2 separate regions of the Homo sapiens genome follow, and region 2 is linked to region 1. The links come from fine-mapping of genetic effects on gene expression. Tissue or cell type: blood mononuclear cells. Region 1 holds a variant in brackets; the other region holds the start of a gene. All regions are shown on one strand. Distances are between the middles of the regions.

Region 1 (8,000 bases):
TCATGATGAATACTCTCTTACAGATGTGAGAAGGGTGTTATGTCTCTAGTGAATGTCAGGAACTGTATTCGCTTCTACCAGACGGCAGAGGAGCTGAATGCCAGCACACTGATGAACTACTGTGCAGAAATTATTGCAAGTCATTGGGTGAGTGAGGTTGAGGGTGTCAACAAAGCACTCTAGCTGGCAGTCAGGAGACCGCCGCTGGGGACGTAGTTCCATGGAAAGTGACCTCTCTGGCACCTGGTTTTCTCTTGTTACACAATTGAAGAATAAATAGTTTGATTAGATGATCTATGAGACTCTTTTCAACTCAAATTCTGGTAGTTCTGTGATTTCGGAGCCAAAGGACAAAAGATAGCTCAGGTCTGGCCAGGCGCGGTGGCTCACGCCTGCAATTCCAGCACTTTGGGAGGCCCAGGCGGGCAGACCACTTGAGGTCAGGAGTTCGAGACCAGCCTGGCCAACATGGTGAAACCCCATCTCTACTAAAAATACAAAAATTAGCTGGGCTCAGTGGTGCGTGCCTGTAGTCCCAGCTACTCAGGAGACTGTGGCAGGAGAATCACGTAAACCCGGGAGGCGGAGGTTGCGGTGAACTGAGATCGCGCCACTGCACTCCAGCCTGGGTGACAGAGCGAGACTCCGTCTCCCGCCCCCCCAAAAAAGATAGCTGAGGTCCAGAAACAGGCTTGGAAGCATCACCTGCCTTCACCCTCCATCTGTGGAAGCTGCTGCTGAGCTGCAGGAGTAGGGTGTGGCTCCACGGCCAGCAGGCCCTGCAGCTTCAGCAGCACAGTTTCAGAGCTTGCCCTTGCTCTCCTAATCAGGCGGAGAGCATCTTTCAGTTTAGATTTCCCTTTCTTAGGTTGTTTCATCATAAAGAACAGTGTTTACATTTTTTTTTTTTTGAGACTGAGTTTCGCTCTTGTTGCCCAGGCTGGAGTGCAATGGCACGGTCTCAGCTCCCTGCAACCTCCGCCTCCCAGGTTCAAGCGATTCTCCTGCCTTGGCCTCCTGAGTAGCTGGGATTACCGGCATGCAGCACCACGCCTGGCTAATTTTGTATTTTTAGTAGAGACGGGGGTTTCTCCACGTTGGTCAGGCTGGTCTCAAACTCCCAACCTCAGGTGATCGATCCGCCCACCTCGGCCTCCCAAAGTGCTGGGAGTACAGGCGTGAGCCACTGCGCCCGGCCAGTGTTTACATTTTGTTGTTGTTGTTTGCAGTTTTAGAATATTAGGGCTGGTGCTACCTTTTGCAAATTAGTTTCTGCGAATTGTTTGGTATTCAACAACACTGTGGGAAAAGCCTTAGAGTTTCAGAAAAGGCGGCTAAAGAACTGGATTTTAAGGCATTGAAACAGGATTGGTAACCTTTCTTTTAAAATAGGCAGAAATATAGAGATCTGCAATAATAGGGACCAGCTGCGACTCAGTGGAGTGACTTGTTTGTGGAAGTTGGAATTGATTTTGTAACTGCCATCTTTCAGGGGGTGGGAGGAGGACTCCCTGCTCTCATGTGAGGCTCCCTTGGGGCGCATTCCTGTTAGAGGTATGCATGGCTGGTGTTTTGCCACCTCACTGGGAGGCACAGTAATGCTGGAGGAGAGTGAGGCTCGGAACGTCAGCCTTCTGGTTCCCCAGCCATTTAAGGACTGTCTGAACTTGAGCAAGTTATCTAATCTCTTTATGCCATAATATTTTCTTCTGTAAAATGGGGATGTTCAAGTACTTACTTCATTGGGTTTTGGGGAGAAATAAATGAGTTGGGAAAGGTTAAGCCCTTAAAGAAGGGCCTGACTGATGCATTTGAGAGGCTTGCTAAATGGTGGTTGGATTCATTGCCTTGTGTCTGTTCTGCTTTTCACTGTGTTGTGAATTCTCAGGACGACCTGAGGAAGGAGGATTTCAGCAGCATGAGCGCTCAGTTGTTATACAAAATGATCAAATCCAAGACAGAGTACCCGCTACATAAAGCCATCAAAGTGGAGAGAGAAGACGTGGTCTTCCTGTATCTGATTGAAATGGATTCCCAGGTACTGTAGCTGCCTTTTCCATTCTTCATTTCCCGAAACTCTAATGCACTTGTCTTTCTCCGTGGTACTTCTCACTTCCTTCCGAGCCATGACTGGCACAGTCTTTAACGTACGGATTTCTACTAAATAGTTTGTTCAAGGCAATCTGAGCTTTTTCTAACATGTTTCTCAAAATTCTTCCAGCCTTAGCCCATTGCCCAATTTAAAAACCTCTTAAATGCTTTTAGGTAGTTTTTTTTTTTTTTTAAACGCTTCTTAACTTTTAGGTGCCAAAATCTGTGTTAGTTTACTTTTGCTGCTATAATAAATTACCATAAACTTAATGGCTTAAAACAACACAAATGTATTGCCTTACAGTTTTGTAGGTTGGAAGTCTAGGACAGGAATCACTGGCCCAAAATCAGGATGTCGGCAGGCTGTGCTTCTTTCCAGAGACTCAAGAGGAGAATCCATTTCCTGCTTATTTGGATCTTTGGCAGAATTCAGATTCTTGCACTTACAGGATCGAGGTCCCCATTTTCTTGCTGGCTGTCAGCCGAGGGCCATTCCCACCTTCTAGAGCCCTCCACACATTCCTTAGCTCATAGCCCCCGGCTTTTGTCTTAAAAGCCAGCAGTGGTGGGTCAGGTGCTTCTCATGTCACATCTCTCTGACTTACTCTTCTGGTTCCCTTTTTCACTTTGAAGGACTTGTGTGGTTAGATAGATCGGGCCCTCTGTGGTTAGATAGATCGGGCCCTCTGTGGTTAGATAGATCGGGCCCTCTGTGGTTAGACGGGTCGGGCCCTCTGTGGTTAGATGGGTCGGGCCCTCTGTGGTTAGATAGGTCGGGCCTCCTGGATAATCTGGGATACTGTCCCCATCACAAGGTCCTTAATCACATCCTCAAAGTGCCTTTTGCCATGTAACGTGGTATGTTTATAGGTTCTGGGGATTAGGACATGTCCGTCTTTGGGGGGGGTGATAATTCTGCCCACCATATGACCTTGAAAGAAATGTAATGGCTCTTGACAGATGGGAGCGAAGTATGTTTTATCCCGGGTGTCCAGTGTATGGGGAGACATTAAACTGCTGGGAAGAATGAAATAGGAACGCCACTGCCTTTCATGAAAACATTAGCTGTTCACCGTAAAACTCTCTGAGCCTCTGCCTGGCACTCGTGCCCCACAGCACTCTGTCCACATTTTCCTGGTGGCCTTTAATCGTCTCCCACATTGTTTATGTTGGCTATGTGGTCCCCATTAATTCTGTACTCCCTGAAAACATGTACCCTGAGGAAGCCTGATAGAAGTTTGTGAATAAAGTTGAATTTGGGGAGTAAGCAGTGTTGGAGCACTTAAATTTGACATTTGTATAAGAGATGATATTTAAGGGTCAAGGTGGGAGAAATTAAAATAGGTCGTATTCTCTACTCACTGGGCGCTAATTTACAAACTTGTTTGTGTAGCTCCCTGGGAAGCTGAATGAAGCGGATCATAACGGAGATCTGGCATTAGATCTAGCCCTCTCACGACGACTGGAGAGTATTGCCACCACGCTGGTTAGTCACAAAGCTGATGTGGACATGGTGGACAAGAGTGGCTGGAGCTTGTTACACAAAGGAATCCAAAGAGGTAGGAAGAAGTGTGTATGTTTCCCTGCAGGCAATTTTATTTTTATCCGAGTAATTTTTGAAGACTTTCTGACCTTGTTCCCAAAATTCTCAAAGGCTTCTGTAGTCTGTACTCACAGGCTACATGATCTAGAATTTGATCATTGGGTCAGAGGAAGCACTCAAGAGCTGTTGCCTATGCCGTGTTAGTTTGGCCATTCACCGTGCCAACAGGGCCCCAGAAAGAAAGGCTACAAAGATGGTACTTGTGTGAAGAAGTACCTTTTACTTGTAAGCACTTGATATGTTTGCTTGTTCAATGGATGGCTTTCTCCAGGAATTGTGCTAGGAAGGTTTTGCTTTTGTATTCTACCACAGATACAAGGATAGTAGCAAAACCATAAACCTTGAAACGTGTTCTTAGCTTCAGGGTTTTCACTTTAACAGGCTAGGCCTCTATTATGATAAATTGATAGAGTTTCATTTTGTTCTAGCAGAGTTATTTGAAATTGTAGCTATATTTTGAATGCATTGTTAATAGTTGGAAGAATACAGAAATGATAGACTTGAGAACAAAACATTTAAATCTTTTTTTTTTTTTGAGACGGAGTCTTGTTCTGTCGCCCAGGCTGGAGTGCAGTGGTGCGATCTTGGCTCAC[G/T]GCAAGCTCCGCCTCCTGGGTTCATGCCATTCTCCTGCCTCAGCCTCCCCAGTAGCTGGGACTACAGGTGCCCACCACCACGCCCAGCTAATTTTTTGTATTTTTAGTAGAGACGGGGTGTCACCGTGTTAGCCAGGATGGTCTCGATCTCCTGACCTGGTGATCCACCCACCTTGGCCTCCCAAAGTGCTGGGATTAGAGGCGTGAGCCACCGCGTCCTCCCAGAACATTTTAATCTTAATGAATTAACTTGTCAAAGGAAAAAAAAAATACTAGGTTTTTGTTTGTTTTTTTCCATAGTCTTACTAATTCATGAGTCCCAAATGGATCTGGGCTGATTTTGCTTTGCAATGGTCATTTTAGACAGAGTGAAATCTGTATAGAGGTAGAGTTCCAGTGAGAAATGAAAGCTTTCCAAAGTGTCAAAGCGTTAGTTTTGTGGAGGGATGGTTGACTTGATTGAAGTGCATTGCCATGGCCACTTTTTTTTACTTACACGTAGACATCAAAGAGAGAATCTACTTGTTTCGTTCCATCTTAATCATCTATATTTTCCCCTTTTGATGATGCATTGTTATACTATTATTGTCTGTGCTACATTTTTGCCATTCACAAATTGCTCCTAGTTGGTGGAATGTAGTTACATCAAGATGTGGTCCTGTGCCAGCTTTGTCCTTTTTGGGCCAAGGTTTTAATACAAGTATCCTTATAAGCCATGTGCTGGAGTGCTGAGCTTGCTGGCTGGTAGAGAGGAAAATTTTGCTCATCACTGGGTAGGAAATCCTTCGAGTATGTCAGTGTCAAGAGCAGATGCATCTTCCTCAAGCACCGTTATGTGCTGTGCAAAGCCAGCGGGTGCTTAGCACTGAGTGTGATTCAGTGGGGAAATCTCCACCACGTAGGGAATGATTCTTTCCCACACTGTTTCGTGTCTGAGATGTTTATTTTGGAAACAGATACCCTGTTACTAAAAAAAAAAAATCTGAGAATTTTGTTTCTTTCCTCCCAGGGAGTTAATTCTTATGTTTGATGATAAATCATCTTTGAGTTATTAAATATTTTGGTGATTGCTTAGATACAAGAATTGCCAAGAATTAGTGATACATTTTTGATGTTTATTTTCAGATGATTTAACCTTCCACTCTGAGTTTATTAATTGCTTGCAAGTATGTGGATTACAGCGTGGGTATAATAAACTTGATTTTGCTAACTTTAGAGTGTTGCATATTACGGTAGACAGAGCACTGGCTTTATGAAGCTGGTATTCACCAAGGTTTGAATCTGAGCTCATCTGTTTACTCTGTGGCCTTGGACAAGTCACATTCTACGTCTTCCTTATCCATAAAGTGGGAATTACTTTTGCTTTATTGGTTTGTTCAGAGAATGCGAGGCAATGTTAGTAGTACACCCAGCAGTGATTACCAGGGGAATGGTGGGGTCAACCCTGCCATTCATCGCTTGCCCCTGCGTTGGAAATGCCATAACCAGGTCCAGTTCCTGTAGGAGTTTTTTTCACTTTAACTGTTAAAGAGTGAAAGTCTTTAATATATGAGATTTTGGTTTAGTCTGAGCACACATTAGAATCTGTCAACAAAATAGTCAGTGATCATCCTAATAACCAAGTATACCAGTCATTTTATCTAAAGAGTGGAACAGGCAGGCAGTGTCTTGGGGGAGTCCACAGGGGGCACATGTTTGGCCAGAGGGATGCCATCTCCTTGGATTAGCCTGATCTGAGCAAGAAGATGAGTCTTCACTTTATAAAAACAGTTCTTCCTGAACTTTTTTACCTTAATAACCAACATCAGTTGATGGGTTTCTTTTTTCTTTCTTTCTTTCTTTTTTTTTTTTTTTTTGTTGTTGTTGTTGAGACGGAGTTTCGCTCCTGTCACCCAGGCTGGAGTGCAATGGCTCGGTCTCGGCTCACTGCAACCTCTGCCTCCCAGGTTCAAGCGATTCTCCTGCCTCAGCCTCCTGAGTAGCTGGGATTACAGGCACCTGCCACCACGCCCGGCTAATTTTGTATTTTTAGTAGAGACTGGGTTTCTCCATGTTGGTCAGGCTGGTCTTGAACTCCCAACCTTAGGTGATCCGCCCGCCTCAGCCTCCCAGAGTGCTGGGATTAAAGACGTGAGCCACTGCGCCTGGCCGATGAGTTTCTTCAGTAGATTGTTCCTGTTATTTTTAGTAAATTTGAAAATGATGCCACCAACTGGAGCAGCATGAAATATGGTTTGTATTAATTGAATAATGAAGGTTACTGGCTGAATAAAACCATCAAGAAGCTGCATTGAAAGAAATATTATATATGGATTTTTTTAGTGTGAAGTTTTTTGTTAGGAATATTTTTATATGGACGGATTGTAATAGTCAATAGTCATGCCTCATTTACCTGGCAGTGTCAGTGAATGAGGTGATGAAGTAACTGAAACTTTTAAGCACCAGCTTTTATTTTAACTGTTTCTGATGATTTGAAATCTTTCTAAAATGTGTTAACCATTTTCTTATTGACAGAAACCTTATAAACGGTGATTGTGACATTTTCTGTTCCCTCCCTTTGTTCTGCTCTTCTGATATCAGTTGTCCTTTTCCTTTATGTACCCTCTGGGCTTTCTTTTAATGTAAAACTTTATTAATTTTCTATTTCTAGTAATTTCTAAATAGCTTCTTTGTGTGGGGTGAATATATATATATATATATATGTGTATGATTATAAGTAAAAAGAACTTTATATTTGGATCTTATTAATAAAGTAAATCTGATCCAAAGTCTATAATTCTTCTAAGAGGACTTAAGGATTTAAGATATAAAATTTTTTTTTATCATGCTATCCATCTGAATCCAGTCATTCATAGGTTTTCATATACCTGTGCAGTATTGCCCAGTTTATCTTCTGTATGTTTGGTGTATTATACATTTTTCATTAACCTATCTTTTCTTAGCTTTACTGTGTATTTATCTCTCTTTTTTTTTTTTTTTTTTTTTTTGAGACGGAGTTTCGCTCTGTCGCCCAGGCTGAAGTGCAGTGGCACAATCTCGACTCACTGCAAGCTCCGCCTCCCGGGTTCACGCCATTCTCCTGCCTCAGCCTCCCGTGTAGCTGGGACTACAGGCGCGCGCCACCATGCCCGGCTAATTTTTGTATTTTTAGTAGAGACGGGGTTTCACCGTGTTAGCCAGGATGGTCTCGATCTCCTGACCTCGTGATCCGCCCGTCTCGGCCTCCCAAAGTGATGGGATTACAGGCGTGAGCCACTGCGCCCGGCCTCTTTTTTTTTTTTTTAAGACACAGTCTTGCCCTGTCACCCAGGCTGCAGTGCAGTGCTGCAATCTCGGCTCACTGCAACCTCCGCCTCCCGGGTTCAAGCGATTCTCCTGCCTCAGCCTCCCTAGTAGCTGGGATTACAGGCACATGCCACTACGCTTGGCTAATTTTTCTATTTTTGTAGCGATTGGGTTTGCCATGTTGGCCAGGCTGGTCTCAAACCCCTGGCCTCAAGTGAAATGCCCGCCTCGGCCTCCCAAAGTGCTGGGATTACAGTCAGGAGCCGCTGCGCCCGGCCACTATGTATTTGTGTCTTAGTTTGGAATATATTTTAAGCTTAAAGGTAATGAAACTACATTAACCCTTCTCCCCTGAGTATCTCATATTTTGGACTTTTCATTAAGGCCCTTTGTCCTAATAATTCTAAAGTTTCTTTCTACTCCCAGAA
Region 2 (8,129 bases), 63 kb after region 1:
CACCATGGATGAACCCTTAAAACATGATGCTAGGTGAAAGAAGCCAGACACAAAAGGCCACACGTATGACTCCATGAAATGCCCACAATAGGCCAATCGACAGGAAAAGAAAGTAGATAGTGGTTGGCAAAGGAAGGAATAAGGAGTGACTGCTAATAGATAAGAAGTTTCTTTCTGGGGTGAGAAGAATGTTCTAGAGTTAGTGGTGACATTTTTACAAATTTCTGGCTATACTAAAAAAAAAAACCCACCGGGCCAGGCGCGGTGGCTCAGGCCTGTAATCCCAGCACTTTGGGAGGCTGAGGTAGGCAGATCACGAGGTCAGGAGATCGAGACCATCCTGGCTAACACAGTGAAACCCCGTCTCTACTAAAAATACAAAAACTTAGCCAGGTGTGGTGGTGGACGCCTGTAGTCCCAGCTACTCGGGAGGCTGAGGCAGGAAAATGGCATGAACTCAGGAGGCGGAGCTTGCAGTGAGCCAAGATTGCGCCACTGCACTCTAGCCTGGGCGACAGAGTGAGACTCCATCTCAAAAAAACAAAAAAAACACTGAATTTTGGCTCATACCTATAATCCCAGCACTGTGTGAGACCTAGGCAGGTGGATCACATGAGGCCAGGATTTCCTGTCCAGCCTGGCCAACATGGCAAAACCCCATCTCTATTAAAAATAAAAAAAATTAGCCAGACATGGTGGCACACGCCTGTAATCCTAGCTCCTCGGGAGGCTGGGGCACAAGAATATTGAACCCGGGAGGCAGAGGTTGCAGTAAGCCAAGATTGCGCCACCGCACTCCAGCCTGGGCTAAAGAACCAGTTTATCTCGAAAAATAAAAATAAATAAATAAAAAGGTTGGGGGCAGTGGCTCACACCTGTAATCCCAACACTTTCAGCGGCTGAATCACTTGAGCTCAGGAGTTCAAGACCGGCCTGGCCAACATGGCGAAAACCCATCTCTACAAAAAATACAAAAATTAGCTGCACGTGATGGTGCACACCTATGGTCCCCGCTACTTGGGAGGCTGAAGTGGAAGGATTGCTTGAGCTTGGGAGGCGGAGGTTGCAGTGAGCCAAGATCATGCCACTGCACGCCAGCCTGGGTGACAGAGGCAGACCCTGTCTCTAAACAACAAAAAACCCCACTGAATTGTATACGTTAAAAGGACTTTACATCACGTGAATTACATCTCAATGAGAAATAAAATACTGAATGAACGAATACGTGGACATAACTGCTTCCCAACTAGACTGTGTGGGCGGTGGGGAGCATGTTGCAGACATCTTGGATTCCACAGCCCCTGACACAAGGTAGGTAGTGGTAAATAAAGATGGTCAATGAATACCAGAACACGGGAGCTCAGTAAACAGCAGAGCACACTGAAAAATAAAAAGCACTCCAGACATCGAAGGTTTTATGCCCACACTTGTGCAAACATCCAACGACAGCTCCCACAGCACGCAGCAGGGCAGCGCAACGAAAACTGCCTTCAACTAGCAGCGACAAAACACCTTGATTCCAGTCCCAGCTCTGCTTCTAACTCACTGTGTACCCCTGAGTAAGTCCCTTCCCCTGCTGGACTATCTCAGGGGATTTGCGAGACCAACTGGACTTCATTCCTTTTCTGTCAACTTTTGTATTTCTTTAGTACTTCCTAGACAGAGGGAAGTGGCTTGTATTTTAAGTGCTAGAGGCAGCTTCCCAATTCCCCTAAGATAATGACAAGTGGAAAATGCTTATTTAATGTCAGCCTAGTAGCTGATCTTAGGCTTGCCCTGCACTTTTTTTTTCTTTTTAAATTTTGGAGGTCAGTCCCGCTGGCTGGCAAGGCAACATCTGTAAAAAAGCACTAGGCTGGCCGGGTGTGGTGGCTCACGCCTGTAATCCCAGCACTTTGGGAGGCCAAGGTGGGCGGATCATAAGGTCAGGAGATCGAGACCATCCTGGCTAACATGGTGAAACCCCGTCTCTACTAAAAATTCAACAAATTAGCCGGGCGTGGTGGTGGGCGCCTGTAGTCCCAGCTATTCGGGAGGCTGAGACAGGAGAATGGCGTGAACCCGGGAGGCAGAGCTTGCAGTGAGCCGAGATCAGGCCACTGCACTCCAGCCTGGGCGACACAGCGAGATTCCATCTTTAAAAAAAAAGCACTAGACTGGTGGTCCGAGTCCATATTCTGTCAGTATTCAGGTGTGAGGGTTTCAGGCAAATCGCATCCTTTAACCCCCTCAGCTGTAACACAGGGACACCAGCATAAACTTAATTTGACAAATGTTTCTTGAGGCCTAACATATGCACAACTTTGGTCTACGTATCAAGGACTGTAAAGGTGACTGGACCCCTTTCCTCTGCCCTAACCTTCTAAGGAAGGCAAACAGGTGCATCTTGTACTAGAAGCAGGAATGACTCAGACCAAATGTACTATATGACGGGCCATAAAGGAATAAAGTATTGATGCATGCTCATAAACCATGGATGAACCTTGAAAACACTATGCTTAGGGGTGGGGGGAAGAAAGATTATTTGGGACCAGGGCATAATGAAGAGATGGTTGGAATTATTAAGGAAACTGTGAGGGTAGGGGCGGGGCGGGATCTCGTTTATCTGTGCCCTAAGAGCCCCCACAAAAGTCCGGCACACAGCCCGTATCCTAGGGCTTCCGACGCTGGGTAATGGGTAACAAGAGACAGAAGACATGTTTCTCCAATGTAAGTCACGCAGGGCGGTGGTGGATGACAGAGCTGGCCCACAGTCCCGCCAGAGCCAGAGAGCCTAGAAGGATAGTGCATGCAGCTCGTCCCGCCCACCGCACGGGTTTGATGGATGTGGGGTGGGGATGGGGGGGGAAATAGATGAATAATGAACCAACGAACGACGCGCAGGTGGCTACTGGCTCGCGCCAGCGGAGAGAAAGGCGTGAGCAGCCTCGCTGATACCTGCGAAGCCGCTATAGTGGGACCCAGGCTCGTAGTGCCTCCGGCCGGAGGACACATCGTAGACACGGCCGAGCAACGCCAAGTACAGGCCCGGGTCCCCTGGGCCGCCGCGGTAGCGAGACAGCTCCTCCGGTATGAAAAGGCGAAAGCCAGCGCGGGGACCCCACCAGCCCATAAGCCGTGCTGCCATTACCGCTGCTGCGGCTACAGCCAGGCCCAACAAAAGCCCACGGCCTCCGCACCTCAACATCTATATAGGCCCACCCGCTCCGCACTTCCGAGGTTGCCGCCTCTATCTACAGCTAAGATGGCCGAGACGCCGAGCGTGACGTCATCGGCGCGCGCGCTCTCGCTCTCTCTCTCGCGCGCTAGTGCTCGCGCTCCCTCCCTTAGTCTCTCTCGTTTTATCTGTATTCCTGGCACTGGCGAAAAGCTCGCTGTCTGCGACTTTTTCCAGGTACTTTTTTTTTTTTTTTCTGAGACAGAGTTTTAGCTCTTGTTGTCCAGGCTGGAGTGCACTGGCGGAATCTCGGCTCACTGCAACCTCCGCCTCCCGGGTTCAAGCGATTCTCCTGCCTCAGCCTCCCAAGTAGCTGGGATTACAGGCACGCGCCCCCACGTCCGGCTAATATTTTGTATTTAGTAGAGACAGGGTTTCACCACGTTGGTCAGGCTGGTCTCGAACTCCTGACCTCAGGTGATCCACCCGTCTCGGCCTCCCAAAGTGCTGGGATTACAGGCGTGAGCCACCGCGCCTGGCCCTTCTCGTACTTCTTGGCTTGCAGGTTGTCAGCCCCAACAAAGATGGCGGCAGCGGAGGCTACGGAATGACGTAGATACTGAGACAGACTCGTCCTCTGGGAAATCAAGGTTGCACCCTTTGAGGCGGCGCTCCCCGCCTAGCTGTCGTGAGTTGGTAGAGGCCGCCTATCTACGTGACGGCGCCTTTGCGACAGCGGTCGTCGCTTGACGGCCAGGAAGCCGGAAGCCGCAGGGGCCGCCGTCGTCTCCTCCGCGTCCCCGCCCGCCAGCTGCTGTCGGAGGTTGACAGGTCGAGGCGGGGAGGCGGCGGCGGCGGCTGCAGAGCCAGGCGCCCAAGACGGAGACCCCATGGGGAACGCTCCGAGTCACAGCAGTGAAGACGAAGCGGCAGCTGCCGGTGGCGAGGGCTGGGGCCCACACCAGGACTGGGCCGCGGTCTCGGGCACGACCCCCGGCCCGGGCGTCGCGGCTCCAGCGCTACCACCCGCCGCGGCGCTGCTGGAGCCGGCCAGGCTGCGAGAGGCTGCTGCAGCGTTGCTGCCCACACCCCCCTGCGAGTCGCTGGTGTCGAGGCATCGCGGCGCGTTGTTTCGCTGGCTGGAAGAGCGGCTGGGCCGCGGCGAAGAGTCTGTCACTCTGGAGCAGTTCCGGGAGCTGCTGGAGGCTCGCGGCGCCGGCTGCTCTAGCGAGCAGTTCGAGGAGGTCAGGGCCGGCAGGCGACTGCGGGGATGGGGCAGGGCGGTCGCCCCCAGGGGACTGAAGGAAGAGGTGGGCATTTGCTTTGGAGAGGCCAGGCGGGGACCCATATGAGGTGTTTCCAGCTTTTCACCAGGCGTTTGCTTCGTTTCTCTTTAACCTATGTTAGAGGTCTGGAAAGTCTGCATCAGGCCGTCCTTGCTCTGAAGAGCTGGACAAGCCCATATGTCTCTCTCTGTATGTTGTAATGCAGACCTTTGTGCAGTTGATTGACGCTACTCTGGAGATCTTCTATCAGATTCTCGAACAGTTTGGAGAGAAAAGAGATGTAAGGATAGGAGGAGTGGCGCTGAGAACCATTTTTTGTATTGTCCTGTCCAGGTTTTTACACAGCACCTTCCCAATTCAGTGTGGGCGCCGAATAAGTGTGGAAAGACAGTAGTAACATGCTGGAAAGGCTCACATTCTAAAACCTATCCTCCTCATGCAAAAACTAGCTTTTCTAAAATACATACTGGTTTGTAGATCCTTAAAGAACCATATATTAGACTCATTTAAACCTTCATAGGATCCGAAACTGATAGGCAAATACCAGGTTTCCTGTGAATACTTGTAATTATGCAGTTCTTCATATAATCACCAAGATCATGTCTGCTAAGTCATTAAGAGAGCAAATTGATTTGGCAACAAAATATTTTCCTTGGAAGGCATTTTGGGAGTTTATTTACTGGGCGCTTCACTTCGAGTTAAGAAGACTGATCCAGGGTTACCCAGTGAATCATTAGTAAAACAGACTATCAACTAGATCTCTTGCTTTTTTTTTTTTTCTTTCTTTCAACTTTTATTTTAAATTCAGGCGTACATGTGCAGGATTTGGATTTGCAGATGTATTACATAGGTAAACGTGTGCCATGGTGGTTTACTCCACACAGCATCCCATCACCCAGGTATTAAGCCCAGCATCCATTAGGTATTCTTCCTGATGCTCTCTCTCCCTCCACCCGCACCCTATTTTTTGTTTTTAATGTCTCACTACCTCCTTCCTGGGATCCTATTTCTTTTAACACCACGGTATGACCAAAAAGGTACTTATTTTGTGAAAATGAGTTAGCCAGTCATGTAGAATCTTCAGTGGCCACGAAGGGTGTGTACATAAAGCAGTAAACCAGCGGGTACTTGCAGTGCCTTTAAAAGGTTCTGTTCACCTTAAAATCAGAGGCTTTTAAAATATTTTAAGAATGTCTTCCTGTACATGGCCAGAATTCAGATAATGTAGTTTGTGTGTTTCTTATGAAAAAAGTACCTTTAAGGCATCCCAACCCTTAAAAATAATAGTCATGGCTGGGCGCAGTGGCTCACGCCTGTAATCCCAGCACTTTGGGAGGCTGAGGCGGGAGGATCATCTGAGGTCAGGAATTCAAGACCAGCCTGGCCAACGTGGTGAAACCCCACCTCTACTAAAAATACAAAAATTAGCTGGGCATGGTGGCGGGTGCCTGTAATCCCAGCTACTTGGGAGGCTGAGGTGGGACAACCGCTTGAACCCAGGAGGCGGAGGTTGCAGTGAGCTGAGATCACGCCACTGCATTCCAGCCTGGGCCTCAGAGCGATACTCTGTCTCAAAAAAAAAAAAAAAAGTCATATTAGTTAGTGAAAGATCTCCTTTTTTTTTCCCCCCAGGAATACACATAGTACCTTCTTTCTAGTATCTACGCGTATTATGAGAATATGAAGTAGTAGTGGGAAGAACCATGCAGAACTGTTGAAGGAGATGGCACTTTGCAGATTTGAGCAAAGGCAAATGGAGAGAAACACCGTTTACATTCTGAGAGTTTCTGACAGAAATAGAACTTTATGTAGAGTTCATAGGAGTCCCTTAATAGAAGGTCAAGAAATACTTGAGGTGTGGTCCAGAAATCACTCAGGGGTTGTGGCATTATTGTTCACTGAGCAAATGTTTATTGGGCGTATATCGAGTGCCACTCACTTGGATGACAGTGGACAAAGCAGATACTTGCTCTTAAAGAGTATGTAGTTGTGGTGGAAGAGACAGGTATTAACCCATTAATTATAAGATATGGTGAGTGTTAACCGAGGGGGAAGGTATAAGGAATAAATAGCAAGTGTATTTAACCTCACTTGGGGCTCAAGCAAGACTTACCTGAGAAGGTAACATTTCAGCCCACAGGTGAATGGTGAAAGCAGATAGTGTTACAGGAGGTAGTAACAGCGTTTCAGGCAGAGGAAATTGTATCCACAAAAGTTCAAAGTCCAGAGAATCTGGAAGAAGTCTGGTGTGGTGTATTAGGGATACACAAAACTTTTTCAAGGGACAGAAAACCTAATGCATCAGTGGTTTAAACATAAAAAGAAGCTGCTTCCTTATGAAAATGTCCAGGTAGGCAGTCCAAGATTGATGTGGCAGTGTTGTCATCATCAGGGACCTGGCTTCGTCCATCTTGTGCTGTCATCCTCCACGGACATCTTCCACTTAGTAATTCTGTTGACTCCTGCTGTCATTTTCCACATTCCAACAAGCAAGAAAGGGAAAAGGGAAGGAGAAGGAAGAAGCCATGCCCACTCTCTTACGGGCATAGCTTACATCCCACAGGCCAAAATTCAGTCACATGGCCGCAGTTACCTGCAGGACAGGCTGGGAAAGATTCTTTTTCCGTGGCCATATATTCAGCTAAAACTCAGGGCTTAATTATTGAGGAAGGGGAGAGAAAACATTGAGTTATATTTGGCAGTCTTTGATTCACATAGCTAGGTCATACAGTTCTGTGAGTGAGGCTTAGCCAAGGTTTAAAAACCTGATTGTGATAATCTCACAGTGGCCACCGTCTCTCATGATAATCTTGTGATGGCTGCTCTGTCTGTAAGAACTAGTAAGTTAGGACTAGCCAAAGAAGATAAGATTTAGCCATGCATTTGATTCTGTGCTTTAAGAATGTCTATCCTTAGACTTGAATAAGTATATACTTTTGTGCATACTTACACAGTTAATTCTGCGTTGTTAATCTACGTCTAAGCTTTTGAGAATATACTGCTGTATTTTACTGCAAGATGAAGGGCTTGTGAAGTAATGTCTTTATAGTAGCAACTAAAATGACAAGTTGTTTCCGTCATTCGTTTTTATAAGAGCTAACATGGTAAAACAGATAGCCACGGGTGCGCATGGTTTATTATAATGCTGAGAGTTTCCAAGTGTTACATGTTTCTTCTTTGGCTTCCCAACTTACGCTGCCATTGGTGTCCACGCAGCTGTCTTGCTTTCACATTCCTGTGACCTCAGTTATTTGAGGAGGTGTTATAAAGAAGTTCTTGGAGTTGGACCATGGACCAAAGTCTGAAACATTATCATTTTATAGTACAACACACCTTTTCTCATGGTAGGTGTGGTCCAGGGAGAAGGTGCGCATGGTTTATTATAATGCTGAGAGTTTCCAAGTGTTACATGTTTCTTCTTTGGCTTCCTAACTTAGCTGCCATTGGTGTCCACGCAGCTGTCTTGCTTTCACATTCCTGTGACCTCAGTTACTTGAGGAGGTGTTATAAAGAAGTTCTTGGAGTTGGACCATGGACCAAAGTCTGAAACATTATCATTTTATAGTACAACACACCTTTTCTCATGGTAGGTGTGGTCCAGGGAGAAGGGACTCTCTCAGTTTGCTCACAAGGAGCAATATTTAATTAACTGCCATGTAGAGGGGAAATAGAATTAAAATTAAGTT

What was found. PIP is the estimated chance that this variant, and not a neighbour inherited with it, causes the effect.
Region 2: it holds the start of CYB5D2, and the variant in region 1 is fine-mapped to the expression of CYB5D2 in blood mononuclear cells (TOPMed, PIP above 0.99).

What each region holds. Positions count from the first base shown.
Region 1 is chr17:4,201,971-4,209,970 of GRCh38, reverse strand. ANKFY1 (ankyrin repeat and FYVE domain containing 1) reads left to right here. Exons shown (of 25, transcript NM_001330063.2): 5 at 24-147; 6 at 1,889-2,038; 7 at 3,485-3,650. Among named protein-coding and RNA genes, the nearest start is that of ANKFY1, 58 kb to the left of the region's middle. RefSeq lists a silencer at 2,721-2,921. The variant G/T (reference allele first, on the strand shown) is at 4,288.
Region 2 is chr17:4,138,814-4,146,942 of GRCh38, reverse strand. It overlaps CYB5D2 (cytochrome b5 domain containing 2), which reads right to left and starts at 3,746. Exons shown (of 4, transcript NM_144611.4): 1 at 2,938-3,746. The coding sequence starts at 3,187. It overlaps ZZEF1 (zinc finger ZZ-type and EF-hand domain containing 1), which reads left to right and starts at 3,913. Exons shown (of 55, transcript NM_015113.4): 1 at 3,913-4,401. The coding sequence starts at 4,048. RefSeq lists enhancers at 2,898-3,477, 3,048-3,600, 3,628-3,937, 3,601-4,152 and a silencer at 4,018-4,187.